Regions from separate parts of the Homo sapiens genome. Here region 2 is linked to region 1. The links come from fine-mapping of genetic effects on gene expression. Tissue or cell type: whole blood. Region 1 holds a variant in brackets; the other region holds the start of a gene. All regions are shown on one strand. Distances are between the middles of the regions. Region 1 overlaps SORL1 (sortilin related receptor 1). Region 2 holds the start of SORL1 (sortilin related receptor 1).

Region 1 (15,539 bases):
GTGAGCCTCTGTGCCTGGCCCCGGCATTTATTATATTATTTATACAATTAGCCTTTTACCCTTTGCAAATTTGGCAGATTCGCCTTCCAGATCCCTATCCAGATCATTGACAGATGTGTTGAGCTCTGTGAGAACTAGAAGTCTTATCTTGGGTTGAGATCAAACCATACGTCAGCACTCTTGGGATGTGCTTATTTTACCATCAGTGAATTTTATCTGACTGCGTGGTCCACAAAGATCTTCATGAAAAAAAGAATGTTCTGTGTCATTGTCCTGTTTTTCAAATCAAGAATTACCACGAGGAAAGGAAATGGAGTTAGTCTGTTGTGACTTGTGTGTGAAACCATTTGGGTTCTTAGCCTTGACCTCCTTTTCGTCTGAGTGCTCTCAAATAAACTGTTTCATAATCCATTCTTGAAACCACCTTTTCTTCATTAAGGAAATAAAAGTATTTTCCCTATTCTAGTTTTTGAGATCTTTGTTCTTCATAATTCTCCTAGAGATTATTGAAAAGGATGCTATAATCATCCTATCTTTAAGTCTTTCAGTTCCTTAGAATTTATTTTGTACTGATTTTCCTTTAACTTAAATGGTTTTTCTTGTCCAATTTGAAGATTATTTTCCTTGATAAAGATAAAAGCAAAATAGAATTTTTTTTCTATTTTTTTTAGACCCAGCTTTACTACTATGTTGTTATTCAAAGATTTTTTTCTTTTTTTTTACTAACGAAGTCTTTATTTCTTTTGTTTTCAGCTTTCCAATCAGCCAGAAAACATAAAGTATTTTCAATTCAAAGTTCTAGTAAAGATAGGAAGAACTGGGTGATGGTTTTCATAAATGAATGAATGAATGAACGAATGGATGAATGTGTATCAAGTGCTCTGTTTTTTTAAATTGATACATATGATTATGTCTGCTATTATTTATTCTATTGGCCATCAGAGCAATGATCCTATTCCTTTCTAATTCTTTATAGAACTTGCCAGATAACCAATCCACTGACCCACCAGTCTGCCAATTATTTTGGTAATTTGAAACATAAACCTTGATTCATTTTGAACTTATCTTGCTACTATTCCAACAGACTACTGGCTATGAGAATTACAGCTGGAATTAGCTAGCAGTAACTGAATTTGTTGCTCTTGGTTATATGACCTTTTTTCCCATCTTGAATATGTTCTTTAGAAACCTGAACTCATCAGGAACTTTTCTGGGTAGCTGCCTGCTAGAGTCCTAAGTTGGGTATCTACCACACTTCTTCCTTTTAGAGTATCTGTGGTTATATTATGTTTTATTATTATATTATCTGACCTTCCCATCTTCTTGAGAGTTTTTGGCCCTGGGATTATGTCTATATTTTTATCTGAACAGTTTGATTTCTTCATTCCTAAAGGCTAGTGCCCTATATCCTCTTTCATAACTTAAGAATGCAAAGATGGGCCAGACGCGGTGGCTCACGCCTGTAATCCCAGCACTCTGGGAGGCTGAGGTGGGTGGATCATTTGATGTCAGGAGTTTGAGACCAGCCTGGCCAACAAGGTGAAATCCTATCTCTACTAAAAATACAAAAAAAAAAAAAAGAATGCAAAGATGACTTTGTTTCTTCACAAGGTTCTTGTCACTTACTTTTACCAATACAAGTTCTCCTTTGGGGGTCAGAATTCAGTCCAAAATGCGTGTTCTCTTAACTGTTGCTGTTGATAAGACAAGAGCCTTTTCCCCAAAATTCTGAAGAGCACCATTTTCTAAATGAGCAGTGTATTTTCAGATACAAGCTATGCTTGGTCATGTACCTGCTTGTTATTTCATTAATGAGTTATTGTCAGAGTCCTCTGGGAACTCTCAAGAAATGGGGTGATTCATTTCCTGAGGTTATGTTGGGTTCGAGGAGCTCTTAAAGAGAATTAACTTGGCAACGTACACATAGATAGACTTTAGCATTACCACTGAGTGGGCAGATGGCTGCCATCATGTCTGGATAATAGGTTGACTCTGTTGGTTCAGTTTGCTTTAAAAGTAATATAAACCTTTAGCTTCACACTGGTTACAAGAAGGAGACTGAATGAGTTAATTTATCCAAATATCTGTTTCAAAATTTTCTTAAACCAAAAGCATATCTGCCAGGTGAGATTTCTCCCCTTGTGAGAGATTTGTAGGGGGAGATTACTTAGTCTCCCATTGACATTTATTATTCTGCCTTGTAACCCTACCAGTTGGTTTAACCCCTAGCCTTTTTGTAGCAGTATCTTTTTTTTTTTTTTTTAAGGCAGGGTCTCGCTCTGTCATCCAGGTGGGACTGCAGTGGTGCAGTCATGGCACACTGCAGCCTCACACTCTTGGACTCAAGCAATCCTCACACCTCAGCCTCCAGAGAAGTAGCTGGGACCACAGGGGGCACCACCACACGTGACTAATTTTTTAAAAAAATTTTCTGTAGAGATGTGGTTCTCATTATGTTTCTCAGGCTGGTCTCAAACTCCTGGCCTCAAAAGATCCTTCTGCCTTGGCCTCCCAAAGTGCTGGGATTACAGGCATGTGCCACCACGCCTAGCCAAATCGATTTTAATAATCTCAATATGAGATGAAGTGTTTGGATAGAATGATGTCACGAAAAGATTTCTGTCAAGGATTAGAATCCCAAAGGTGTAAAACTAAAATCTCAAAAACATGAGAAAGGTGAAAGAAAAAGTTTTGCATATAATTTGGATTTAAGAAGGACCCAGAAGCCCTGTGATTCTAAAGAAGGCTTGAATTGAGTGATTTCTCATGTCAAGCGTCTCACCAGCTCACTGGGTGATAAAACAAGTGTTGGGCAGATTTTCTTCCTTGCCTCCCTCTCCGTCCCTCTTCTCCTTCTTCGACACCAAAGATAATGTAAAATCAGTGCAGTTACTCAAATGCTGCTTAGTTTTTCAAGGGCTGGCTTCCTGCTTCTGTTATAGTCTGTCTTGGAGACTTTCCTCAGTATATACTTTCCTTCAACTTTTTACTTTTTAATTTCTAAGACCACGGGAAAGTTGGAAAAACCGTATAACGAACACCCATGAAACCTTCACCTAGAGTCACAAATTGTTAGCATTTGCCGGTTTGCTCTACTTCTATCATTGGTCTATTTATCTATCCTGTGTATCCATCCATTATTTTTTAGCTGAATCATTTTAAAGAAAGTTGCAGACATCATGCTCCCTCACAGCTACTTAAATGTGTATCTCCAATAAATAAGGGCATTTTCCTATATAATCACAATGCCATTCTCACACCTAAGAAAATTAACATGAACTCGGTATGACTTATAGACTATATTTTCTCAGTTGTCTCAAATTATTTATGGCCACTTTTCCCCTTCAATCCGGGATTTAGCCAGTCCTGAACTAAATCCTGGATTGGATTTACACATTGCAAATTTGTTTAGTCATTGCATTTGGCTTTTATACTCCTTTAGTCTTTTAAAATCTATAACACATTATCTGCCTTTTTTCTTTATTTATTTGGTTTTTGTGGCCTTGATTTTTTTTTGAAGAATCTGGAGCAGTTATCGTGTAGAATATCCCACATTTTGGATTTGTCCAATTGTATAGAATAGTACACAGAGGATGTGTTATTCTCAATGCTTTATTCAGGAGGCACCTAATATCAAGTTGTCCTGCTATTGATGATGTTTAGTTAAGATTGTGACTCTCTGATCATTCATTGTAAGATTATGTTTTGTAAAATTTTATTTCCCCATTTGTAGTGAATGATTTGTCTGTTCAGATCATCTGAACATCCTGGCCCCAACACTTTCACCGAATGGTTTTAGCATCCAGTGATGATCCTTGTGTGATTTAGTTATTGCAGTGGGGATAATTTTTCTGTAATTATATTATATTATATTATAATATATATATTGTTGTGTCCAACCCTTATTAAGTGCCATTCTAATATAAGAAAAAAATTGGGGGCCAGACACGGTGGCTCATGACTGTAATCCCAGCACTTTGGGAGGCCGAGGCAGGCGGATCACGAGGTCAGGAGGTCGAGATCATCCTGGCTAACATGGTGAAACCCCGTCTTTACTACAAATACAAATACAAAAAAAAAAAAAATTAGCCGGGTGTGGTGGCGGGCACCTATAGTCCCAGCTACTCGGGAGGCTGAGGCAGGAGAATGGCGTGAACCCAGGAGGCAGAGCTTGTAGTGAGCCGAGATCATGCCACTGCACTCCAGCCTGGGTGACAGAGTGAGACTCCATCTCAAAAAAAAAGAAAAAAAAAAAGAAAAAAATTTCTCTTTTGCTCCTCTGTCTTTTAGTATCATTAGAGACCCATGTCCTATTTTCATTCAATGTGTAATCTGTTACCATCATTTTTCTTTTTTATGTTTGAATTCTCCTAAATTCGGCCAGTTGGAGCCCCATCAGGCTGGTTCCTGTGTTCTTTTGAGATGACTGCATTTATTTCTGAGCATTTCCTTAAACTTTCCCTGCCTTAGCCCAGGATCAGCCATTTCTCCAAGGAGCCCTGGTTCCTGTTCCTGGTGAATGTTATATGGAAACCAAGCCTTTGCCTTAGAGACTTTCACTGCAAGGATTCTCTTACTTGCATTTGGGCAGATACAGTACCAATGAAGGGGAGACCTGGAAAACATTCATCTTCTCTGAGAAGCCAGTGTTTGTGTATGGCCTCCTCACAGAACCTGGGGAGAAGAGCACTGTCTTCACCATCTTTGGCTCGAACAAAGAGAATGTCCACAGCTGGCTGATCCTCCAGGTCAATGCCACGGATGCCTTGGGTAAGCTGCTGCCTCCTTGGACCTTTTCACATGGATATGCGTGGACTTCCTGTTATGTGCAAAGCACCAGCTTAGATACTGTGTACTCAGAAGAGCCTGACATTCATTGGGGGAGATGGGCCCATAAGAGTTAGCAAAAAGCATAGGGAGGTAATTGAAGGCCTGCTCAATTCTTCTTAGTAAGACTGGGTGCTATTCTTTGTATCTTAGTTTCCTCATGCAGTTCCTGGCACATAAGAAGTTTAAATATATGTCTGCTGAATATGTAGATAAATGCATGAATGAAAAACATATTTCCAAATCAGCAGTGCCAATTGGACGTATTCAGTGAGTGTGCCTGACTGTCTGTAAGTCAGTGTGCCAAGCGACACAGGGTCCTCTCAAAGCCATCTAGGATCTAGTTGTGATCTGCTAATCTAGATACAGGATGCATAAGTATGCAGGGAGAAGTGAAACTCTTCAGCATCCTCTCCCTGCTTCCCCATCTTATCTTACCCTTTCCTACCTCTCAGCCTTGGCTAACCTGATTCTAGCTGCCCGGAGTGCCCTGTTTCTTCTCATTTCCACCCGTTCAGCCTCCCCTACTCGAAATCCTTTTCATATCTCAGGATCCAACACATTTGTGGCTGATATCCCAACCAGAAGACGTCTCCCTTCTTCTCTATGTCCAGAACATAAGTGTATGCATAACTTTGTGTCTGTCACTCGGTGTGTTTCACCTTCCATTGACTAGATTATAAAGCCCTTAAAGATAAGAACTTGCCCTGTGCATATTTGTATTGTACCTACTGGAAAGCCTGATAGCCTAACAGTCTGTAGGAGTTTAATAAGTTTACTGATTTGCATGGCATTGAGTCAAAGGTTGTGTATCAGCTTCGGGTAGTATCTAATCTGACTGAAGACACATATATAAGAGACACAAAGTGCCAACATAGACATAGGCATACTTTGGAATGCTTGTAGAAAGCACCCTACTTAGACATTTCGATGAACGTGGCAGATGGAGTGATGGTGCAAGGTATCTTAGCATTTTCCAGCCTCTTTCCATGGAGATCCTGTACCTTCAAGTAGGGCCAGCGAGCCCTCCATTGCCTTCGGGCCACACTACCAGATGTGCCCTCACTGCCTGAGGAAGCAGGCCAGGAACATTAACCCCCAATGGTATTGCTCATCAAGGATTCAGCTGTTCCCTAGTTCTCTAGGAGAGAAACACTTCTGAGTACTCATTTCTAAAGGGCACTGCTGACTCTTCTGTAATGTTTCGGAAATTTGGATAGTGCCTAAAGGTGGCTTGCTTCTTTCCAACTTTTCCAGGCAGATGCCTGCGTTTCAGGTATCCTTTTCATTGGCATAGGGCTGCCCAGCTTCAAAACAAGCTGATTGGAGGGTCTGTGTGCTTGCGGGGTGGCAACAGATAGACAGGAAGTGGGGGTTGAGGCCAGGCACCTTGAGGCATAGCAGGAAACCCTACATGGGCCTGCCTCTAATGCTTCGTGCTGTGTTCCTTTTTCTTTAGGAGTTCCCTGCACAGAGAATGACTACAAGCTGTGGTCACCATCTGATGAGCGGGGGAATGAGTGTTTGCTGGGACACAAGACTGTTTTCAAACGGCGGACCCCCCATGCCACATGCTTCAATGGAGAGGACTTTGACAGGCCGGTGGTCGTGTCCAACTGCTCCTGCACCCGGGAGGACTATGAGTGGTCAGTTCTTCTTTGATGGCTGGGGACTGAGTTGTGTTTTATTCACTCAGCAGTGTTGGGGGAAGAGATTAGGCATGGTCCCTTTCCCTGAGCAAAGGAAGGGAATAGAAGGAAACAAGTATTTGTGAAGCATCTTTTATGTGCCAGGAACTGTGCTAAGCATGTTTCATGTAAGTTGTTTTCTTTAGTTCTTATAGCCAGGTAATGCGGTAGAGGTGTCTAGGAGAGCTGCAGCTATTTCTACAGGAATAGATAGCTCTGGGATTTATTTCTATTAGGGTAACCCAAAAATATGCTGAAGGTTTCATTGTTTTTAATCCTTCTCCTTAGGACCCTATTCTAGAGGGGATTTATTTCTTTATCTGAAACGAGGGGATGTTAGTGTGTGTATATGTGTGTGTGTTTGCATCATTTATTATTCCTTAAGCAAAATATCCAAGGCACTGCTGCGAATGCTAAAAGTAGGAGAAGTGATTTGTGCATGGCTAATTGGCACAGGAGATAGAAGAGAGCAAGTGCCTCAGAGGAGGAACTGGTACTTTTATTGTGACTATTGAAAGGAAGGAGAGGGCTGTGGATTGCTGTTGGAGAATGAGGAGATTTTTGGAAGAAGTGCTGTTTGAGCTGGGCTCTCAGGGAGCATCAATATTTGCAGACAGCAGTGTTTTGAGACCATGTGTCTGCAACAGTCAGGTGTAGAGGCAGCAGGGTGTGGTTGGGAGTTGAATTGGGATGCCTTGTTGGGTGTATGACATGGGGATGACAATTGGAGATGAGGCTGAAAAGATAGAATACAGTAGGGGAGAAAGACCTTAGAGGGGATGAACCTTATTCTATAATTAGGAGGAGGCCTTCAGCGGCTTTTGAGGAGAGTTGATGATGAGAACAGAGCTTAGCTGTAGGAGCTTTTGAGGAGAGTTGATGATGAGAACAGAGCTTAGCTGTAGGAAGAGGATTCTAGTGGCAGAGTACAGAGGATCTCAGAGCTCCTGGACAGTCACTGTAGTCTGTAATTCAGCATGAAATCATTGTAGTTTAGTCAGGAGCACCAAGAGAGCCATGGGTATTTAATATAAATACACAACTCATATTTCAGTGGTTGCTGAGGCACAGAGGAACTAGATTTTGCTTTGGGCAGCTGTACTTGTCTTGACTAAAGCCAGAAACCTCTGATGTATTCTAGACCAGAGGTTGGAACATGGTCATATAGTAAATGTTTTAGACTTTGTAGGCCATATGGTTTCTATGATCTGTGTTACAACTCCTCACTTTGCCCATGGCAGTGCCCATGGGTGAATGAAAGCAGCTCTAGAGGAATGAACGTGGCTGTGATCCAGTAAATCTCTATTTACAAAAATGGCCAACCAGGTTTGGCCACTTCTGTTCTCAACCAGTGCTTCTGAAACTTTAAGGTGCATATGAATCACTTGCAGATTCTGCCTTGGTCACATGCAGATTCTGCCTCAGGAGTTCTGGGGCTCTGCGTTTCCATCAAGCTCC[C/G]AAGAGATGTGGATGCTGCTTATCTGCACATTCGCCCTTTGAGCAGCAAGGCTTAGAACAGAGAAGACAGTCATTTCCTTAGAAAGGTGTGTGCTCCCAAGGTAACGACACAGACTCTTTAACAGCAAAAGCACAGGGCTGGCTGATGTTCTTGGTGACTTCAGTTCCATGCTGTTTGCCTTCTGCTCTTTCTTACACACTTTTGCATTATAGTCTAATCTAATCTGAGAGCTTTGTTGGCTCCAGGTAGTCCTCCCCAGACCAGCTTGAGACTGGAGAGGTCCTAATCCCTGAAAAGATCATAGTGCCCTCTCTCTCCCCTCTTCCTATCCCCAATATGTACTTCAAAATAAAATTAAGACTAAGTAAAAAATAGGTAAGAAAGTCTAACAAATCTTTGGGGTTTTTTTTTTTTTCATGACATTTAGGCTTAAAAACAAATAACATTAAAATTTTCTCTCTTGCCCTACATTTCCCCAACCCTCACCAAAAAAAAAAAAAAAAAAAAAAAAAAAATCACACACACAAGAAAAGAAATGGAGCTTGGTGTGCCCTCCTGGGTAAACTGGCCTGGGACCTGCTGGTCTACCATGCCCACCCCATCTGCCTTGCTGGAACCTGCTGTATGCTCACCCTGCTTGTATGTGGAGTGTTTTTATTGTAGACCAGTAAAACCACCTGCTCTGCCCCTTGTGGAGTTGGGTTGCAGGCCAAATGAGATCGTGGGGTGATGACCCTCTGAAATGGTAAGGGGTATATGGATGTCAGCTGTTCCCCGCTCCACCCCTCCCAATTGTTTCTCTGCTTGCTGTAGCTGCTGGAAGGCAGCCAGCCCAACTATATGGCTCTTGGAGATGTTTGATGGCATTGGACTATGGCACTGAGAAGGAAAATGGTCCCAAGATGGACGTCAGGAAATGAGATGAGAATGAGCAAGCTTATAGTATCTTTCCATTAGTTCAGGTACTGGTTGACAACTGTGTTTGAACACCAGGTTATTTCTGATAGTCCTTTTAGACCACACTGGGAAGCCCAGCTATTGGCCCATGTTTCCTGATTTCCATGGTAGATTCTTTTATGTTCTTATATTTCTCGACATTGCCAAGTCATACAGCTTTCACATTCTTGACTGCAACCCCTAGTAAATAATACATTTTCTCTTATGACCCTGTACTTACATATGTACGTGTAGATACATACACACATATAATTAAAACACAAGTTTTAGGAGACAACATTGACTTTTAAATGTATGATGGGGCCTTTTGCAATCTTTTGCACTTTTTTGGGAGGGGAAGAATCTAGTCTTGGGCCTCCCAAGTACTCTCAGAGTCCACTAGGTCATGACCTATGGTCAAAGAAAGCTGCCCAGGAAGAGTGCTTTGCTATTGGAGGCAAATAAGTAATTAGCTAATGCTTTATCTGGTTCCTAAAAAGATTTAAAGTGGCCGTTCAGTAATAACGAACTGAGGTAATGAAAGAGGCACATTTGATACAGTGACAAAACTGCTGCCTTTTGAACAATTCTTACAAACTATTAAATGTGGATTATGATATAATGCACACAAATCACTCTCTGTGTATCTGTTAATACTTTTTGTGTCAGAAATGTTTAATGAATATTTGGAGTTTTTCTTTTTGTTTTTTGTTTTTCTGAGACAGAGTCTCACTCTGTCACCCATGCTGGAGTGCAGTGGTGCAATCTTGGCTCACTGCAACCTCTGCCTCCCAAGTTCAAGCCATTCTCTTGCCTCAGCCTCCAGAGTAGCTGGGATTACAGGTGCGTGCCACCATGCCCAACTGATTTTTGTATTTTTAGTAGAGACGGGGTTTTGCCATGTTGCCCAGGCTGGTCTAGAACTCCTGACCTCAAGTGAGCCACCCGCCTCAGCCTCCCAAAATGCTGGGATTACAGGCGTGAGCTACCATGCCGGACCTAAATATTTGTTGAATTGAATAGAGCAAATAAATGTGTTCTGGTAGAGCACATGAACGTGGAATATATGTTCTGTTCTATAATTCTTTGAATATATTCTGTAATTCATTGAATTATAGAATTTACAGGTTTGGAAGGGCCTTAGAACATTCATAGTACAGTCACCTCGTTTTAGAATCGTCTTCGACTGAGGCCTCCTGCTTCCTACTCCAGGATGCTGCCCTTCAAGCTGGGAGGTTTGGCAGATGTGACTCCAGATCACAAGAGGTCTCATGAACCTAACTACTGTATCTCAAAGTACAGGGTGACTTAGCTAGTATGTGGATATACTCTTAAATAACATTGAACCCCTAGTCAAATTTTTTCTTTTTTTCTGAGACAGGGGCTTGCTCTGTTGCCCAGGCTGGAGTGCAGTGGCGCAATCACGGCTCACTACAGCCTTGACCTCCTGGGCTCAAATGATTCTCCCACCTCAGCCTCCCAAGTAGCTGGGACCACAGGTGTGCAGCACCATACCTGGCTATTTTTTTTTATTCTTTTTTGTAGAGACAGGGTCTTACCATGTTGCCCATGTTGGTCTGGAGCTCCTGGGCTTAAACAATATGTCTGCCTTGGCCTCCCAAAGTGTTGGGATTACAGGCGTGAACCACCATGCCCGGCCCCAAATAATTTTTTAAAAAGGTTATTCTTTTAAAATTCCTCTTTTACTTCTTCAGATTCTGTCAAAAAGAACGTCTCATTGGTTGCTAGTAACTGTAACATTTGCCTAATCCCTTTTAACAGAGAGGGCAGGTCCAGAGTCTTAAATTGGGAACTGGATCTGGCTAAAATTTAATACTGTTTTGATTTGGCATGATGATTTTTTTTTTTTTTGGTCTATTTATGGCATGTGATTGTGTTTTTCCAACTGTGGTTCTGATATAAATCTTCTTTTGAAGATGTATTTTATATAAAAAGTAAATATTCTTTAAAGGGACATGTTAAATAACTTATAATAAAAGTGAAAAGTAGTAAGGTAAAGTCAGCAGAATTGGTACAGGAATGCCTGAAATGTATAAAACCGTGGCCTTAACAAAGCCCAATTGCCTTTTTAGTGACTTCGGTTTCAAGATGAGTGAAGATTTGTCATTAGAGGTTTGTGTTCCAGATCCGGAATTTTCTGGAAAGTCATACTCCCCTCCTGTGCCTTGCCCTGTGGGTTCTACTTACAGGAGAACGAGAGGGTATGTATCACAGAGGTTGCCCTGTCAGGTTCTCAGCGGTCCGCACATGGAGCGAGAGAGCATAGAGGACCGTCTGGATTGCTCTACACTCGAAATTCTAGAATTCCAAGTTAACAGCCTGCAAGTAGTTTGGGCAACATTATAAATTATGGTATTTGTAAACTCTCCTACCTCCACATTGCAAGTCTGTAAGCATCCCTGAAACTCTAGGAATATCTTAAGTCATCAACTTCAGCAGGGAAACATCTTCAGAGGAATGTATTCAAGAGATATATTTAAAAATCTTGGCCAGGACAGTGCCCTAAATTGTCTGGGCCTGCCTAGTCTAATTATAAGGAGAACTGACTCAGAACTACGAACATCCTCTTTCTAGTTCTAAAGAGAAATGAGTGGATGGACTCTACTGGCCGTGGGTAGTAAGTGTATTCCCAGCTGGGATGCCTTTGTGGCTATTCTTCCATGTTTCTGACCTCTTGCTCTTGGGGTGGGGTGACAGCTACCGGAAGATTTCTGGGGACACTTGTAGCGGAGGAGATGTTGAAGCGCGACTGGAAGGAGAGCTGGTCCCCTGTCCCCTGGCAGGTAAGAGAGGTGGTTTCTTCCCTTTCATTTCTTGAGACATGGTTGAAGCAGTATCACGATCTCACCCAAGTCCGGGCTTGTGGCTCCTTTAATTGAGTGGAGAAAAACAATGGCCGTCACAAGCATCACAGGGCTTCCTCTTTTCCCTAAGGTTGGTTTCCACACTGAACTTGTACATAGCCATACCCGTTTTTAGGAATGGAAAGTACTTTGTGTCAGCTCAGTTTCTTTGAGGGAAATCCCTTTGTTAATTGAAAAATATTTATTCAGCATCCACTGGGGTAGAAAGATCCCCACAGGCTTTTGTGTGTTCCTTAATCTGTTTGTCAAAGTTGAGTATAAAGAGGTGTGTGACTTCTTAGGAAGTAGCTAAGTAGTCTATGTTAATTTTATAATAAAACTAACTGTAACTAAAATTTTAATGGAATTTTATAGATTTCAGTGTACTTTTTATGTGTTGCCAGTTTAACCCTTTTAACAACTCAGGGAAGCAGATATTATCAATTTTGTTTTTTACTTTTTCACGAGGAAGCATGTTCAGAGGAGGTTAAATGGCTTAAGGTCACACATCTAGTAAGTGACAAAGTTGAAATTCAGACTCTAAGCCCCATGCTCTTCATTGGACATTGCCCAAATGGCAAATAAATATCATTCTCACTATTTTAGATAATCATTATGCATGCTAATTAAGAAAAACTTCTCTGAAATGATTCACATGCTATAAAGGTATAGTGTGTTCTAAAACACGTTTCTGCTAGATTTAGTGGTGATGTAACATGGGGTCTTTACCACAGAGACATGAAATTATGATACTTTGAAAAATAATCTCTTAGTTGCTTTTCTTCACTCTGTTTCCAGTTCTTATTCATTTAAAGCTTCTTTATTCCCTCTGTGCCCTCTTTCCTGCCCATTACCTCTTGGTGAAGGTAAATGGCTGGAGTTAACTTCCGTCTGTGGTGGGTGGTGGTGTCTTACGTGGACAGCCATAAGCACCGAATGAATCATGAAAGAAGTGTGTGGTCTCCACAGGCAGGGCAGGGCAGCCCTCTCTTTTGCTCACTGCCGCCAGCTTGCCCTGGTGTTTTTCATGCTAAGTTCGTTAGTCCCTTAATTTAATCTTTCATCATTACCAGAGTAATTAACATACCTCACTATGGAGGCTTGAAAAGAACCACCACTTCAGCAAATTCCAACAAATGAGCAGATAATATTCAAATATTTCCCTCACAAGAGCTGTTATTGATGAGGGCGTGGGTTAGTAGGGTTTGAGTGATTGCTCTTGAGGGGCTGGAGTGCCTACTTTTGTAATAAATATTTCTGAAGATAATTCAGCAAGGGACAAAACAGTTTGTTTAAAGCCATCTAAACTGGCAGGAAAGCTATTTTCTCTTCTACTGGAAGATAGAACAGGGAACGAAGTGGAGAAATCTCATTCCATTGTGGGCCACCTCCTATGTAAAAGAGAGAAAAAAAAAGGCATGGAATAGGAGGCAGGGATATACCAGGAAAGAAAAAGATGCTTTCACAGGACTAATGGGGGCCGTAATATCTTTGCAAAGATGAGGTAATCTGGGCATCTGGAAGGATTTTTTAAATGCAAGAATTTTTCTTCCTTTACAATTACTATGAAAACACACATTCCTTGGCCAGGACCAGCCAAGAATTCCATTCCTTTTCCAGGTTAAGCATTGCGCGCTGGAATGCCGCATGCTGCTCTGAACATAATCCTAAAACACGTATTTCTGGATTCAGGTTCTACTTTATGGGTATTAGTTTCTTAGAGGAAAAAAAAGCCCAGAGTGACAGAATGAGGTTTATAGATGCTGGAGAGAGATGTGGGGCAAAAGCCTTGCTGCTGCAAATGTAGCTTTCATGTCCCTATACCTTAGCTGGCCCCCTCCCTGGGAATGACAGCGGGAAGGTTTCCTTGACAACCAAAAGGGGAGGTAGGTTACCATGTGATGGTAACATAGATACTTCTAAAGTGACCTGGAACCAAAGGAAAAGAAGGAAAACTTACCTTATTAAAAATTGTAGGTAGATTTATTTTTTGATGCATTATCTATATTACAGCTTTTATAAAGAAGGTGAGTGGTACATGTTAAGTCACTGAGTGTATGGAATCAGGAAGTGGGCAGGAATGGCTAACCCAGGCATGCAGCAAAAGAATTCCGATTTGCATCTTGGTCCCATATGCAACACACTGTCAAGATGCACACTTTAGACACAGATGCTGGTGTGCTGCTTGTGTCCACTCCTGGGGAAGAATCTGGATGTTTCCCAAGCCGTTCCCTAAGTGGACAAGACAGTGTACTGGGTCTTCCTATTTCCAGTTGTCTGACATTAGGTAAGTATCTTCAGCACTCAGGACCTTCATTTCTACATCTTAAAAATCATCCACGGTAGCGTCTGTATCATAACAGGCAGCACAGTGTAGTGGTTAAAGCATAGACTCTGGATCCAGAGTGCCTGGGTTCCAATCTTGGTTCTGCCACTTGCTAGTTGTGTGACCTTGGGTGAGTTACTTAACCTCTCTGGTCTCAGTTTTCTCATTTGTAAAATTTGGTTAACAAGAGTTCTACCATCAGGCAGTTGTTGTGGGTCTTAAACAATACCCGATACGTAGTAAGCACATTATACACAATATGTACACAATTTATATTTGTTGAGTAGAAACAGAATTTTTGTGGTGATTATGTTGTGGAACATTTTGTAAATAGCCAAGAACAAATGCATTATTAGTATTATTTTGGAGATCTAAGAGGTTCATAGAATTGCCATATGGTGTTGTGAACAATATGAATAAGTGAGCAAATTGATTAGAGAGCTTAGTTACAAAGCTTCAGTGACTAATGGTCTCTCGTCAACAAGATGATGATGCTGTGGTGATACAGTCACGTGAGGAGGGAGAACAGGGCGATTGGTGTAATTAGGTTGGCAAGTGTGACTTGAAGACTGGCAGGCTTAGCCCAGAAGTATGGTTGTTGAAGCATGCATATTGGGAGATTTAGAATAAAGAAAAACATAACAAGTAAAACACTTGCAGATGAAGAAACAGATTCACTGGAGTTTAAGTAACTTGCCTGAGGCAGAAATGTGATTCCATTACACACCTCCTGAGTCTTGATTTCTGTGCTCTTCACTTGGTCCACACCACATGCCAATGAATTTGAGGTTTGTGTATGAGAAACAAATAGGTCAGATGTGCTAGGACCTCTTCAGCATCCCCTGGGTCCAACCTCCCACGTGTCTTGTGTGTCTGGCAGAAGAGAACGAGTTCATTCTGTATGCTGTGAGGAAATCCATCTACCGCTATGACCTGGCCTCGGGAGCCACCGAGCAGTTGCCTCTCACCGGGCTACGGGCAGCAGTGGCCCTGGACTTTGACTATGAGCACAACTGTTTGTATTGGTCCGACCTGGCCTTGGACGTCATCCAGGTGAGTCAGCGCTTGGTCTGACTGTGGGAGCTGTGCATCGTGACTGCCCTGTCCTGATAAGCTGCATGCAGAATGGCCTATGGAAATGGGCAGTTAGAAGTTTGTAAGTGTTACTCATCTCAGGGCTGACAGGTGAAAGTTTCCAGTCTTCTGTGTTAGTATTTTTCTTTCTCTGTCTTCATCTGTTCATATAGGAAGGATAAAGAAAGCCCTAAATCCACAGACCTGCTTGAAAGTGAGGTCTTGCTTTTCCTGCTGGGAAGGTGTTGGGACTAGTAATGTAGGATGATTAGTTGCCCCCCTATTGTGCCAACTGCCTCTTGAGCATCTTTCTTCCCAAGCCATGATACAGTAACACTTGACTTACCCATAGCTCACATAATTAT
Region 2 (15,539 bases), 95 kb before region 1:
GCTGGAGTGGGCTTGCTTGGACAAGATGTAAGAATCCAGCAGACCCAGCAGGCTGATTCCTCCTCCAGAGCTGTTGAATTCATCTGGTCTTTTGTCTCTCCACTTAAAGGGAAACTGTTCCCTGATTTGACCAGGAGTTTGGTGGATCCTGGCCTCAGAACACTGCTCCATCTGTTTGGGGTCTAGGTTCTCCTGTAAGGGTTTTAGGGGTGCCCTGAGCCTTCTGGTACAGGATGTGTGATGGCCTCTAGCCTGCTTGCTAAGAAATGTGTGTGTGTGTGTGCGCGTGGGTGTGTGTGTGTGTGTCTGTGTGTCAGAGAGAAAGAGAGAGAGAAACCTGGTTTAATTTATAAAAACTAATCTCAGTTTTTATAGCAACATATCACCTGGTAGTGAGGTTGAAGGGACATGTACAAACCTGAATAAAAACCCAACAATTGCTGAATGGCCAAATTGATTTACCAACAATACCTAACCCGAGCTTTGCTCAATAATAATAGGCATCATTAGCTAAACAAGTTTTATGTGCCAGGCGTTCACTTTCTAAACCATTGACATGTAAAATCTCAATTAATCCTTTAAACCTGCAGATGTAGGTAATTCATATTTACTTACGGATGAAGAAACTTAGGCTCTGAGAAAGTACCTGAGCAGATCCAGCGGGTCTCTGGCAGAGCCGGATATAAACCCAGGTGAGTGGGCTTCTGACGTCACGCCTCTAGTACTTTACACTGCACATGGATGCAGGTTAAGCGCATTTCAATCTCTGGTTCCATTTTAGGTGATTAAATGATCTGGGCAAGATTAAATTATGAGGTGGAAGAGGGGTGGAAGGGTGGACAGGATCTGACTTCAGTGGGCAGGATAAAGAAATGAGGACACGGTGGGTGTCCCCCTGCTGGGAGGCATCCAAGACAGATGGGGGAGCAGGAACCACACTCCATGGTTGGCAGACTGTAAGTATTCCATGGCGTCATTATCACAGAATAGCAGCCTTTTAGAATTAAGAATAGTCTTAATTTGTGCTGTGTTGGGTTTTTCATTTACATAATGTTAGATTTCAAAGAAAATTCATACACAAAATTCACTGCTAATTTAGCACTGAAGCTTCTGTTGAAATAACCATTGAAAACGAAGAATTTTTCACTCACCTCTTTGCTTAGGTGGTTGGGCAGTTTGAAAATTTGCCTCCGAGCAGGTCTGTTGGTATGATCCAAACTCTAATCGCAGTTTCAATAATTTATTTGGTGTGGAGGATTTAATGTAATTTAAGGGCTCTGAGAAAATGTATTATTTTATGTGGAGCCTCATTAAAAGCACTTGCAGTTTTGAGTCTGGTGGGAATGATGATTTTAACAGGTGTTAATTCAGCTGATGACACCACGTAAAATTTCCAGGGTGATGGATTTAGAGAAGGCGCACAGTGAGGGGCGTGATCTGTCGCACCCTCTGGGAGATTATATGCATGATACACAGGTCCTCCCACTTCTCCTGAGCTGTAGCAGGAGATGGGCAAAAGTGGCATTTGGAACACGTGTTGTGGCCCTGGTGAAACAGGTGCTGGAAGAAGCACTTCTCAGAACCCCTGGCTGCACGGCCTCCACGGATCCCTGCACCACAGTGCTGAAAGGGACGAGCTGGGCGCTCCACCCCAGCTTCTGCTGTCCCCACAGCTCTCCTTTGGTGTCTCTCTCCATTGGCCTTCCCAGCCTCCCATAGCAGGCACCACCCCACCTACCTGTTCCCACACCCTACCTTGCCGCCACTCTACCCTGAAACCTTTCCTCCTTCTCCTCAGACGCTGAAAATAACTTCCTGCTTCCTCCCGGAACCAGAGCACTTTAGCCTTCTCTGCTTGTCCCGTTCCAACTTCCACACACACACCTGAAACCACAGCTCATAACGTCTTATTCTCCAGAGAGTTTGCCTATCACCCTCCCCAAAGCCAGTACTCATCTTTTTTCCCCCCAAGACAGAATTCTTTTTGTATTTACATATTTCTGCTAGTTTCATGTTTATCTTTCTTCTCTTTCTCAAGTTCCTTGCAGTTAGTGGCTGTGTCCTTTATAGGCATTTGAACCTATTATTGGGCAGATGATGACTAGGACATGCATAAAAATATGTTGCAGGGAAAGGACCCCCTTCTTGCTCAGGCTGGCTGCCCTGGTGCTGACAGGCCCTCAGAGGCCTCTCTGCCATTCTTTGCAGTGAAAACTAGAATGAAAAATTCAGTCTCCCCAGAGCATTGATTCAAAATTGTTCCTCCTTCCAGAACCAACTGCCGAAGGGTGTGAGGAGCGGGGGTGGGGGTAATTCTCTCTCACCACTCCCTTCACTTTTACTTCAATTCTGTAGGATCTACTCTGTCTCTGTTAAGTACAAGACAGGGGAATAGACTCCAAGACATCATTACAATTTAGAAAAGGAGATAAGTACCAAAATCGTTGTTCTAATGGAAGGCAGAACATGATCAACATCTCAAAAGAGGCCTAAAGCAAGTTTCAGGGCCTCTAGGGGTAGTTGGGGGAAATCCAGGAAGAGGTCAAGAAGTGGCCTTTTAGTTAATGAATAAACAAGGCCAGAGGGGAGAGCATCTCAATCTGTTCTGACTGGAAAAGGGGTCTGGGGGATCCTAGGTTTCTGTTAGACTGTATCCAGGAGAAGGCCAGGCATGGTGGCTCATGCCTGTAATCCCAGCACTTTGGGAAGCTGAGGTGGGCAGATCACCTGAGGACGGGAGTTCGAGACCAGCCTGGGCAACATGGTGAAACCCCGTCTCTACTAAAAATACAAAAATTAGCCAGGTGTGATGACACATGCCTATAATCCCAGCTACTCGGGAGGCTGAGGCAGGAGAATCATTTGAACTCAGGGGGTGGAGGTTGCAGTGAGCTGAGATTGCACTACTGCACTCCAGCCTGGGTGACAGAAACTCTGTCTTAAGAGAAGAAAAAAAAAAAAAAAAGGAAAGTATCCAGGAGACGTGGGCCAAAAAGCTAGTCTGACTGTCTGCTTTCCCTGTCTTGCTGGCCCTAAGAGAGTGCAGAGGCATCTGCTGAAACAAAGCATCACATTTCAACTGTGCTGTGTCCAAGCTGATTGGTCACATCCCCAGGCTCGTCTGTGCCTAACGCATGCATCCCCAGTGAATGTACAGCAAAGGCCTCAAGGGAAGAAGATACAAGCCTTGATATGTAATTACACGGGGATATTCAAATAATCTTCAGCTTAAGTTCCTCTCATTCACTTCAAACCCAGGAGGGGGAGTCCTACTCCTCTATATTCCCAGGGAAAGAGGTAATTTCCTAGGGACCCTCAGCAACCCATTGTCTTATGTCAGGAGGTTTGTCCTTGGGTCTACATAATTATAAGAAACTTCTAGGTTCCCGCTTCACACACTTTGTGAGAAAGGTCTAAATGCTTTCTTGATCTAGAAGTTCAGGAAGTTGAGTTACGCAGGGATGAAGGCCAGACAAGGGTAAACAGTGGAACCAAAACTTGAGGGCTTTTTTTTTTTTTTTTTTTGAGACAGGGTCTCTCTCTGTCACCCAGGCTGGAGTGCAGTGGTGCGATCTCAGCTCACTGCAGCCCTGACCTCCTGGGCTCAAGCGATCCTCCCCACTCAGCCTCCTAAGTAGCTGGGACTACTGGCATGTGCTACCATGCCTGGCTCATTTTTGTATTTTTTGTAGAGGTGGGGTTTCGACACATTGCCCAGGCTGGTCTTGAACTCCTGGGTTCAAACGATCCTCCCGCCTTGGCCTCTGTAAGTGCTGGGATTAAGGGCATAAGTCACTGTGCCTGTCTGAGGGACCTTCTAAAACTTGCGCTCTCTCACAGGTTTTGAAACACATTGGAAACCAAATCCCTCGCTAAATTCATCTCCTAGAAAAGTATAGAAAACAGGACTGGACTTGTGAGCTTTGTAACTGTAACATTACTGCTAACTTGTCCCAATCAGGGCGTGAGGGTCAAGCAGATACAGCATCTCACCTAGGCTAGGTACCTAGGAAGGGAGACAGTGCTGGTTAAGGCAGGGCTGAGTTGTGAAGGAGGTGAGGCCTACAGCCACTCCCTTTCCTTCTTTCTGCCCTAATTCCCGCTGTTCCACTATACCCAGGACTTGAAATACCAGCTCTTCTCTTCCTAAGAGAGGTATCAGATGTGGCAGAAAAAGGGAGCCTGGGTTCAAATTTATCCCTTACTAACAGTAAGTTAGCAAGCCTGTTTAACTTTAGGCAAAGCAAATAGTCTTCCTTTCTGAATTTCAATGCTTAAGGTCTGTAAAATGGGGGTGACAATAATTCTCGCTTTGGCCCACTTCAAAGGGTTGCTGTGCGATGGAATGAGATAGATAATGCTGTTATAATGTTATGCAAATGTAAATCACTGCTATGCAAAATAACTTACTGCTATTTCCAGAAACTCCTCTTTGGATTTAATTTAATCAAGAGTGAGAATATAAGTTACTTATTCTATGCTCTGGGTGCATTTGTATTTTAAACCTCATCAATTATCTTGGACGCTTTCCTAACTGAAGTAGATTTTGGCAACAGCAGGAGAAGGAGTTATTTCTTTGGGGGCAGGCGGGTATTTCTATTTTGCCTGAGCTGGTGAGGTCAATGGTAGTTATTTGGCCAAAGTAACATGGAAGAGGGAACAATGTTTACCATCCTAAGGGCAGGGAAGTCCCTTTTCTGCTTTAATGACTCTGGTCTGGTTGCGTGACTCAGAGAGGCCTGCTTTGGGGGAGAAAACGAGGTGGGAAGCAGATGGTGGTAAGAAAAGATCTGAGATTCAACTACATTGGCCCCTTAACCAACCATTGCCACCAGGACAAAGGTGGTGTCACTTCTCACCTTCATTTAAATGCATGCATCCTATAAATATCATTGAGTGCCACCATGTGCCAAGAGTATGCTGGGCACTGGGCGTCTAGACTTGAATGAGATAGACTGGTTTTGTCATTCTGCTGCTTGTAGATTAAGAGGAAGATGGAGATTAAGCAAGTGACCAGAGAGGAAGTATCAAAGGCTACAGGGGACTAGAGCCTTAGAGTGAGGGCTGTAACCTAGCCTAGGTGCCTAAGGAGGCTGCTCTGAAACCTGAAGGCTGAATAGAAGTTGGCCAGCCAGGAGGTGAGCATGTGAGAAGGCCACAGGAAGAGAAAGAACAGAAAGAAGTCAAATTAGGCTTTGGGGAGTTTTTTCCTCTTCGTGGCTGTCCTTGCTGCTATTTTAAACATGACTCCACCTGGATAAAAATGTAGGACACTGTGACCTCTGTGTGTTTGTCCTCTACCTCCATCTCCAGTGGCCTAAGATGGGCAGTAGGACAGAGGAGGGCAGTTTAAAGTCTGACAACAGGCTTAAGACTGTTTTATACACAGCTGTGAGTCTATCATTACATTTCCGTGCATGTTGATTTTCGTCATGATGCTGGGCAGCATCCGAGCAAGGCCATGCAAGATGGGACAGAGGGGGATATGGTACTGTCTTCCATCCTGCACCCCAACTTTGATGTTACTTCAGAGGGATAGAGGAAGTGGTAGCTTGTTTACAACCCAGAGCTGGTTTTGAAGCTGAGAGGAACACCTCACTCATATTGCACGATTCAGCTCTAACTCCTGTCCTGGGTGACCTTGCCTGTGGCTGCTCCTATCTCACAACCCAGTGGGGGTCCTGAAGGTTTGGGAGTGGTCAGGGCTGAAAGGTGTCTTTTCATTTAACTTATGAAGAAATCGTAAGAGACAAGATGATCAAGACAAAAAATTACATAATAATTTGGTTGCAAAGCCAGGACTAGAATCTATGTTTCTAATGCCACCTGCATGCACTATTTCTCTCTGGAGGCCTTCACACAAATTTGCACAGCTATTTTATATACTTACCTCATCTGATACTCTCAGCAGTCCTGTGAGATTGGTAGGGATTAAGATCTCTATTTTACAGATGAGAAAACTGAAGCTCTGAGGAGGTTTGGCCAAGTCCCCACAGCTAGAAAGTCAACCTTCTGACTCAGAATTCAGCGTGTCTTCCACTGCGTTCTGTAGTTGTGCAGCAGGCACAGTCTTGGGGGGTTGCTGATTATCTACCTGAGAATGGTTTGGAATGTAGATAATGATTAGATAGGAGGGCTTGCAAGGAGTTAATTAACCATGTTTGAATATTCTTACCAATTCTCTAGCATTCAAGTTGCAAATCAACATCAAAATGAGCAAGTAGCTGGCCCTGCCCTACTAGTCCTTCTGTGCAAGGGGCCATCTGAACCTTAAGCCAGCAGTTTGTGTGGGCAAACAGATGCCCATCTTCAAATCCACACTTAGGAGACTCCTGTCTCTGTTTTCTGCTGGGACTCTGACACTTGCTCTTGCAGAGAAGGTTCTCATTAAATATATGTTGGAAAAACCCCAATAATTGAATCATCTACAGGATGTTCTCACTTTAGCCATATTCCCTTCATTTTCCTTTGAGGGCTAAATGGGAGTAGAGATATCTTTGCTGCTGGTCCTGAGAGACCATGGGGTTGTCCATTCCTGGTAAGGTGATGCTGACCAGACAGAGCTGATCTAGATGAGGGGTGGGAGGTGACAGTGGTTCAGTGGCTTTCTTGGAGGATGCATGATTGTTTGAATTATTATTTTTAATTGACATATATAAGTATATAATAAATATATATGTTATATATATGAGTTAGAGCTGAATTGCACAATATGAGCAAGGCGTTCCTCTCAGCTTCAAAACCAGCTCTGGGTTGTAAACAAGCTACCACTTCCTCAATCCCTCTGAAATAACATCAAAGTTGGGGTGCAGGATGAAGGCACCCCAATAATACCACACTGGGGAAAGTGTGGTATTTTGATACCTGTATACAATGTATAATGAACAAAGCAGGGTGGTTAACATAGAGAATGCATGATTTGCTTGGTGGGGAGAACTGGATGGTTCTGTAATTATGTTGAGATGGACAGAAAGACATCATCTGACTTGGGGAGAAAATCGGGTGTGGGAGGAGGTGGGAGAGTGCAGAACCTGAGGCAGAGGTCCCCAGCAAGTCTGGCATGGGGTAGGGTAGGGTGGTTGAATACTGGCTTCAGGGAGATGAGGCAAGCTGGCCTGACTCTGGCAGGTTGTCAGTGGTAGTCCTAGGTAGAGGAGGGGGCTTTGCTAAGCTACCTGAAAAGTACTAGAGTGGGCCGGGGTAGGAATCGGGCTACCGTGGCTTGTCGGAGATGAGGAATGTTTTTAGAAAATTGAACTGACCATCCCTTCCTTCCCCTGAACAGCAGCTTGTATGCAACTATAAAGGTAGTCTCCCTTTCAGCCCTGCTTGCTGTGTCTTTATTCTTATCAAAAACCAGGATCTGAGTTCAGAGGGCAGTGAAACATAAAATGAAATAGGAAAGGTTGCAGTAGTACATAGACTTTGGCTGCTCCCACTAACCTGCAAAAAAAATATTTTCCTTGGGCGTACCTTAGCAGTTCCATGGCAGAAGTTTTATCTCCTGTGGTTCAGAGAGTTTGGCTCGTCAAGCTGAATGTAGGGTTAAAGTGTGTCCTCCCTCCTCTGTGGGTGTTTGCCTAGCTCCTGGCTGTGGGTTGAAGGGACTGGTAAATATGTCTATTTTACTGCTGAGGCAGGGTGGCTCAGTGCTTGGTCACCTTGGAGGGATCATAAGCAAGCCGCCGCTGGGGCCCTGTGCCACGCACAGGTATTCATGCGTGCGTGCAAGCACACCCTGTATAGCTGTGTAATAATTGTCCAGGTGTGGTGCATTCTTTGTCAGATGTACCCTTGTTTTTACTGCCTCTGTGCAGGATGTTTATTTGCTGTGCTTCAGGCTGGGGCACGTAGCTTGATCAAGGGTAGTTTTTGCTGTGGCCCCTGCAAATACGTTGTGGTGCCCAGAGTAGATGAAAAACTGTGAGTTTCCCAATAGAGCGGGTTCATCTGGACTCTTGTTGGTTGCGTTCTAGGAGCTAATTCTGTGGCTCTGGACTCTTCCCTGGAGGTGGGGATGAGGCCGGGGCCGGGGGGAGGTGGTCTTGTGGCGCTACTGCGGGCTGTGCACTCAGGAAAGTGGCCACGGTTTAGGACGACCTCGACACGACCCTGTATAGGACGCAACTAACTCCAGAGAAAACGAGCGAGCCCCATGCAACTCTTCATTCCTGCAGGGAGAACAAGGAGGTGTGCCCGCCAGGGAAGGGACGCACCCCCACCGGCGCTCGCTGCCTTAACTTCCCCATCCCCGCGCCAGGGAGGGGCCGGAGTCGCCGCCGAGGCCGCCGAGCGCAGAAAGTGCGCGAAAGGGACGCGCTGCGAGCCTCACACGTGACGGCGCCGCGCCGAACCGAGCGGGACCTGGCGGCAGCGGCGGCGGGCGCAGCGGGGCGGCCCGGAGCGGCGCGGGCGGCCTGGAGCCCCGGGAGCGGCGCGCGCGGTCCCGGCCCAGCGGCTCTCCTGGCCTCGCGCTGCACATTCTCTCCTGGCGGCGGCGCCACCTGCAGTAGCGTTCGCCCGAACATGGCGACACGGAGCAGCAGGAGGGAGTCGCGACTCCCGTTCCTATTCACCCTGGTCGCACTGCTGCCGCCCGGAGCTCTCTGCGAAGTCTGGACGCAGAGGCTGCACGGCGGCAGCGCGCCCTTGCCCCAGGACCGGGGCTTCCTCGTGGTGCAGGGCGACCCGCGCGAGCTGCGGCTGTGGGCGCGCGGGGATGCCAGGGGGGCGAGCCGCGCGGACGAGAAGCCGCTCCGGAGGAAACGGAGCGCTGCCCTGCAGCCCGAGCCCATCAAGGTGTACGGACAGGTGAGCAGTTTTGCAACCCGCCTCCCTCCAGTTTTTTCCTCTCCCTGCACTTCCTCACCCCCGCATCCATCCGTTGCAGTCGCCTCCTAGGTGCAGGCACCACTGGGGACTTCCCGGCTTGCATTTGTTTTTTTCCTTCACGAGTACAACCGTCAGCACTTGAATCGCATTGATCTTTCCTTCTTCCTGTCGATTTAGTAAACGTATTCCAGGTAACTCGCCGGGTGCAGTGCGTATTACCCCAGGGTGTGTGCAGAGAGATGTAGTTTCCGGCAGGTATAGGAGGGGTGCAGCTTCATTTTACATCTGGATAAAAAACGGGCTTTCTTTAGTGTATCATCAGTTGGCAGTGGAGGCGAGCACCCTGCAGTTGCGGTACACTTACACAGAACAGCACGAGGTGGGGGTTTCCACACTTAGCATTATTAGCACAATAAAAGTGGGCAAACCTGAAAGCTTGTCGACTATCTCTGTACAGTCAGACAAGAGGTGTGTGTATGTGTGTGCGTGTGTAAAGGCTGAATTTTTAATTTTTAATTTTTGGCGAGCGTGTGAGATGCTCTCCATTCCTTCTTCCCCACCCTTCAAGATGCTGACTCTCCCACCCCCGTCAAGATAACTTTATTTTGGAGAGGAATACCCCTCATGGCACTTGGAGATTTGAAAGGACTGCAGGAAATTTGGTGGGCATTATTATTCTATAAGTGATTTATTTCTACCCAGGCAATAGGTTTATTAGATCATAAGTAACGTGAATTTCACTTTTATGGTCAGACTTACTGCGAGGAATTGCAGATGGAGTTTGTAGGTTAGGATCAGCACTGGCAAAATTAATTTGACCGTGTTATTGCCTCATGAGACTCCCAGTCCTGCAGTTAAGATTGACATCAGCAAAAGTATAAGGTCGGTGGGGGAGAAAAAGTAGGACCAGAGGAGGGGGTAAATACACTTGTTTTCTAGAGTCAAATTGTTCCTTTTGAAGTAGAAATTATTAATAAAAGATTACCCTGAGTTCTGCCTTTTCTCACTAATTTCACTTTAGCCATTTCTTCAGGAAATACAGAGTTAAATGTTCAACCCTTGGATCCAGGACGAACCTTGTAAACATATCACCCTATTGTGTCATTTTGTTGGTGAAGAAACTGAAGCGTGGAATGGTGAAGTGACTAGTCCAAGGTCATACCGGGAAGGTGGCCTGCTCTCTAGTTTTTGTCTGCATTGTCTCAGTGACCTTTGCTTGACTGCAGTCACCCTGTCTTTATGCAATGCTGCTGAAATACCTCCTTTCTAAAATAAAATAGATCTGGTATAAAGGGGGAAAGGATGGTGGTGACTGGGTGGGAGCGTTGGATTTCCCTCCACTATTGGTCCCTGGGCAAGAATGTGTGCCCCAGGGCATGTAACTAATGGTGGCCACAGGCTGCAGGAACCTGCATGCTCAGTTCCTCTTGGGCCCAGATCCTTGTCCCCCTGTCCCCACCCCATATGACAAATATGTGTATGAACAAAAAGAAGTCATCAAGGTCCTTGCTCTTAACAGCGACACCAGCATGGGGCTGATGGAGGGTGGGAGAAGGAGGAGGAGTGGCCCACTTCTTCATTGGGCCTCCGCAGTCAGCCCAGCTCTGCTGTGCTCTTGAATCAGCATTCTGGGAACTGGGAGTTGGGGGCTGGTGGGAGACAATCCCTCCCAGTGCTCAGGTCCCCTGAAGCTATAGTTTAGGTTGAGGAAAAAGTTTTCTGGTTTCAAAAATATGTGTACATGTGCCATTTCTTTCTTGGGTTTGGTTTATGAAAAGCTCCAGGGGATGTGGGGCAGGTTGGACATGAACTCTGTTCTCACTGGGAGTGACTCCCAAACCCTGGGCTTTTGAGTTTCTGGGCCAGCCAGATTGAGTTTGGTTCAGCTGAAGGATGGAGAACTAGCAGTCAAACTCATAATGAGGAATTCCTAACCGGAGGGTGAGGGTACAAGGGTGAGATTTTTCTTCTCTGTGGCTGCCTTCCTATGCCATTGTTGCCTCTTGCTCTGAGGTTAATAAGAAGTGGAATTAATTTGAATCTGTAAGGATTTGAGTCAGATAAAAGGAAGAACTTCCCTGTACTGGGCTTTCTGCCACAAGTTCTATCTGGTGCAGACCCTTCAGAATGCAAGCACAGGTTGGTGACTGAAGGGGTTTGAGGTGCCCCTCTTGGAACTCTGGAGTAACTAACATCTATTTGGAATGATCTTTCTAGCAAGGATGACCATTGCCTCTGTGTTTCCCTGGGGCAGACCTGGTTTCTAAGTTGTCTCTGGTGGTTATGAATAGCACCCCCTTCACTCTCAAAAGTGTCAAGATGTGACAATAAATTATATGGTCCTACTTTTAGCCTTAAGCCAAGTTCCACTTTGTAATCACGACTTTCCCCTTCAACGTTTAAACCTAAGGAATGGTGATGTTTTCCAACAGTACTGCTTGACTTGAGTGTGGTTCTATGGAGGTGCAGTGAGCTGGGGAATAAAATTTCATTCCTGCTTTTAGGAAATTTACAATTTAAGGAGGAGAGCAAGCAGATGCAGATACAGGCATGTCAATGTACCAGGATGGGAACCAGGAAACATGGTCACAAGAAACCAGCCACAACTCTACAATGGTGTGATAACGGGCTGTGTGACATGCAGCGCATGGGAGATGGAGAGATAAGGGGTGGTGGGCTCAGACACTGTCCAGCTTCTTGCCCTCTGACCTTTGAGTGAGGTTAAGAGGACACTGGCAGCACAGGTTAGGGCTGGAAGCAGAAGCTGCCTGAAGGAAGCAGGCCTAGAGGCGATGTTAAGGCCACCACCTTCAGGGAGAAGAGAAGGGAAGGCTTTCTAGGGGAATACTTGCATCTGAGAAAGAGCCCTGTGCTGGAGTCAATGTCGGTCCTTTTTCCTCTGCTTCGCTAATGTCTTGGGTAAACTAGGCTTGGTTATTTTGACCATTTTCCTCCTCAGTTTCTCTAAGGTGGGGAGACCGGCTTCTGCCATGATTACTTAAAGGCACATTTATGATACTGAAATGTGATTGTAGGGGTGAAAATAATTTGCTGGCAGATATCAGGACTTTTCTGCCCATGTTCAAGGCTCACGCCTGTAATCCCAGCACTGTGGGAGGCCGAGGCGGGTGGATCACTTGAGGTCAGGAGTTCGAAACCAGCCTGGTCCACATGGGGAAACCCCGTCTCTACTAAAACTACAAAAATTCACTGGGCGTGGTGGCAGATGCCTGTAGTCCTGGCTACTCAAGAGGCTGAGGCAGGAGAATCGCTTGAACCCCGGAGGCGGAGGTTGCAGTGAGCCGAGATCGCGCCATTGCACTCCAGCCTGGGGGACAGAGTGAGACTCCATCTAAAAAAAAAAAAAAAAAAGGCAAAGTTTAGAAGTTGAGCCCCTTCTTAAAGGCCAGGTCCAAGAAGAGGGATTCCCTAATTCATGCCACACTGAATTTCCTCCTGATTTCTCATAAGCTCTGTCTGTCTGCGCCATCATACCTGCTTTTTCCTCTGCCTGAAATGATCTTCCCCAACTCTTGTCCTTGCCTGGGAAGCTCTTATTCCATTCTTTAACATCCAAGGAATACCTCTTGGTATTCTCAGGCTATGGTGGGAAGAGTTTCTTCTGAGCTTGGAGGCAGCACTTACTGCCTTGTGTTAGAATTGCTCAACTGTCTCATCTTCCTGTTTGCTCCTTGAGGGCATGGATCAAGTTCTCTTGTGTTTCCCTGGCACTTGGGAGGCCCTTAATGAGTATTTGTGGACCAGCCACACACCTGGAAGAAGAGAGGCCCAGAGGGTAGGAAGCACATTCACATTATATAAAATGTATTTGTAAGGAGGAATACAGTGAACCCACACATGGATAGTGAAAATGAGATGGCTCATTCGGTAGTGAGGATGCAAGCGGCATGGCCTACAGATAGTGGAGCCCTGATTTGCCTGTGCTATATGGGAGTTATTTTCAATGAAGAGCTTGGATTCTATTTTACAGAATCCTCCCTTTTAGGGCTATCATTCTGGTTTATGCTAATGGTATTGTTTTGGGGAAAAATCCTTTGGAATAAAGCACAAAGCCTAACAGGATTTACAGGTTTATTTTCCTTCCAACAAGCTCTCTCTTCATAATTCCTACATTTTAGAAGCCAGGGAGTATTCAGTGTCCTGATTTGAGACTGAAAATAAAGTGTCTATTACAGCACAAGGCCCTGGGACAAAAGGCCTCCTTTGGGGGTGGAATACCGTTCAGCTTTAGATCTCTTTTGAGTAGATTCTTCCATGATACACTTGCTTGGGAAAGAATTGGCTGGTTGATTCTGAAGTTAGGATGTTTGACCTGTGTGCTTCCAGAATAAGATGAGAAGGCAAAGAATGTGCTGCTTCAGGTTGGCTTTTATGTAGCTGAAGAGTTGCTCGGGGCCTTGGGTTGGCTCAATAAGGGACGTGACCTTGAAAAGCTCTTCCTGGTTCCACTTGGCGTCTTTTCTTAGGGAGCTCTGTGCCCAGTCTCTGGCCGCTTTTAGTTCATAAATAGCTTGCATGGTTAGAGGCACAGAAGGTGGAGGCTTTGCGAGGGGGAAGGAATGGAGGAAAGGGGTTGGTGAGAAGAGTAAGGAGGCGGAATTTGGAGGGATGAAATAAAAAGCTGTCTGATTAGGTAATGCACGTTTACAAAACAAAATTTGTACAAAAGCGTATGTGGTAACAAATTTCCTTCCCTCTCATGCCCCCTGTTCACCCAGAGCTCCTTTCCGGGTGGCATCCGTTGTTATCAATATTTTTGTATATCTTTCCAGAAACAGTCTATGCATGTACAACATGTATGTACATAAAATTGGAAACTTGAATTATAAATGGCTTCCTGTTACCTGTAGTCCCTGGTATCCTGAATAATGAGATTAACTTTAGCTCTAAATTATATTTGTGATATTATGATGGTGAATTGTTAGAAAATTACCTGAAGTATCATAATATAAAATAGATGATTACTTTTTTTCCAGGCCAGGTGAGAAAAACCTCATTCTCCTTTCACTTCAAGCGTTCTTGCAGAGCAGGAGAGCAGCCTGATGTAGCCCCCTTGTAACTTGGAGAGATGCTGGAGCACAGTTCCCTTGAGATGTGGAGTCCAGGCTTGTAAGAGCATCAGAATACAGTGATCATGGATCTTGGTTTTAATTTGTGTTCTGTCTGAGAATGTTTTCTCTATGTTCTGTAAAATGAAGTTAATGGTATGCTTAATAAATTGCTTTGAGACTTGGGATCCACGAGGCAGATCCTTATAGCAACGAACATCCCAAGGCAAAAGGTGGATGTTGTAGGAACATTTCATTGTCAGATTTTGGTCTGTTCCTCCTTAGAGATGACAGCCATCTTCATAGTGTCATTGTTGAATCCCAGGGCAGAGATAGTTGGAGCCAGCTTTGTTCCACCCACTGTAATGGAGGGACACAGGGGGCAGTCTTATCATAATCTGGAGAGCAGGTAATCCAAAAAATAATCGATTTGCTTTTGCTATGTATTTATGTAGTCTTTTTTTTAAAGCATTCGTTTACCTTCCTAATTAAGTTTTGCTCAGGTGAATATTAAAATGAGTTTGCATTCTTTGATCTATTGATAAGGGAAATGGCTGGCCTAAATGTATTCAGGGAAAGGCAGTTTGGAGTTTAGAATTTGCGACAATAATTCAGATGCAGATAATTGAGAGTTGATAAAAATGTATTAAATGTTTTAAATGAATAAAAATGTATTAAAACCTGGGGGCATTACATTGACCTTTCCTCCATTTATTTGGATTTAAATAAATGTGATGGAAAGTAAAAGAGAGCTCACTGCATTTTTGGTTTGAATATTCAGGGATTAGTATTTCTCCAGAGGTGGTCTGGGCTGTGGGGGTGAGGCATTCTCTGTTGATGAGCATGGGACTTTCCTATGCATTTTCTAGGTATGCCAGACACTGTTGGCAGATGGTATAGTCAGTCTAGCCACGTACATGCAAAAATCAATTTCCCTCAATTTAAAATGAGCCACAGTTAATTTCGACCTAATTTATTGGCTTATCGACCTGTGAACCCTGGGCCTTCGAAGAAGTGGCATGGGCGGCCTTCAAGCGCTGAAGTGGCTGATGAAGCTAAAATCCAGAAAAGGCAGGGTGGGCTGCTGAGCAAGATCAAGATTTGAGTTTCCTCCTGTGTTATTGTGAGATGCTCAGTTTTTTTTAACTGTAACATGACCAATGCTTTGTGCATTTTATGGTGGGTTCCGTAAAAATAGGACTGCGTAACGATCACAAGTACACTAGTGTGTTAAAAAATAATTACAAAGTTCTGTTATCCACTGGGTAACTGTTTATTATAATGGTAACATCCATGCCCATAGCACTGCTACTAGCCAAGAGCTGGAAGATCCTATCTTCCTGGCCGCGTCCTGGACCCTCCGATGTGGCACTGTTCAATAGATCTTTCTGTGATAGTGATGTTTTCTATCTGTGCTGTTCACCATGTTCACTAGTCAGATCTGGCCATTGAGCAGGTGAAATGTGGCAAGTGTGACTGAAGACTTGAAGTGTCTTTCATTTAATTTTAACGAATTTAAAGTTGAAATAGCCACATGTGGCTCTTGGCTACTGTGTAGACAGCACAAGCTTTGACAAGGCCTCTTCTTCCCACCTGTAGGCAACCTCTGCTTCACCCAAGAGAGAAGTTCCTGCAAAG

The links. PIP is the estimated chance that this variant, and not a neighbour inherited with it, causes the effect.
Region 2: SORL1 starts here. The variant in region 1 is fine-mapped to the expression of SORL1 in whole blood (TOPMed, PIP 0.92).

Annotation. Positions count from the first base shown.
Region 1 is chr11:121,538,957-121,554,495 of GRCh38, forward strand. It overlaps SORL1 (sortilin related receptor 1), which reads left to right. Exons shown (of 48, transcript NM_003105.6): 13 at 4,592-4,770; 14 at 6,287-6,473; 15 at 11,004-11,132; 16 at 11,629-11,714; 17 at 14,981-15,153. Among named protein-coding and RNA genes, the nearest start is that of SORL1-AS1, 94 kb to the left of the region's middle. RefSeq lists enhancers at 12,056-13,255, 14,812-15,409. The variant C/G (reference allele first, on the strand shown) is at 7,974.
Region 2 is chr11:121,443,806-121,459,344 of GRCh38, forward strand. It overlaps SORL1 (sortilin related receptor 1), which reads left to right and starts at 8,509. Exons shown (of 48, transcript NM_003105.6): 1 at 8,509-8,811. The coding sequence starts at 8,527. SORL1-AS1 (SORL1 antisense RNA 1) reads right to left here and starts at 9,162. Exons shown (of 3, transcript NR_183636.1): 1 at 8,870-9,162; 2 at 5,891-6,094. RefSeq lists enhancers at 4,873-4,952, 7,466-7,525, 8,916-9,105, 9,116-9,165, 9,206-9,275 and 2 more and silencers at 8,396-8,445, 8,576-8,625, 10,470-10,519.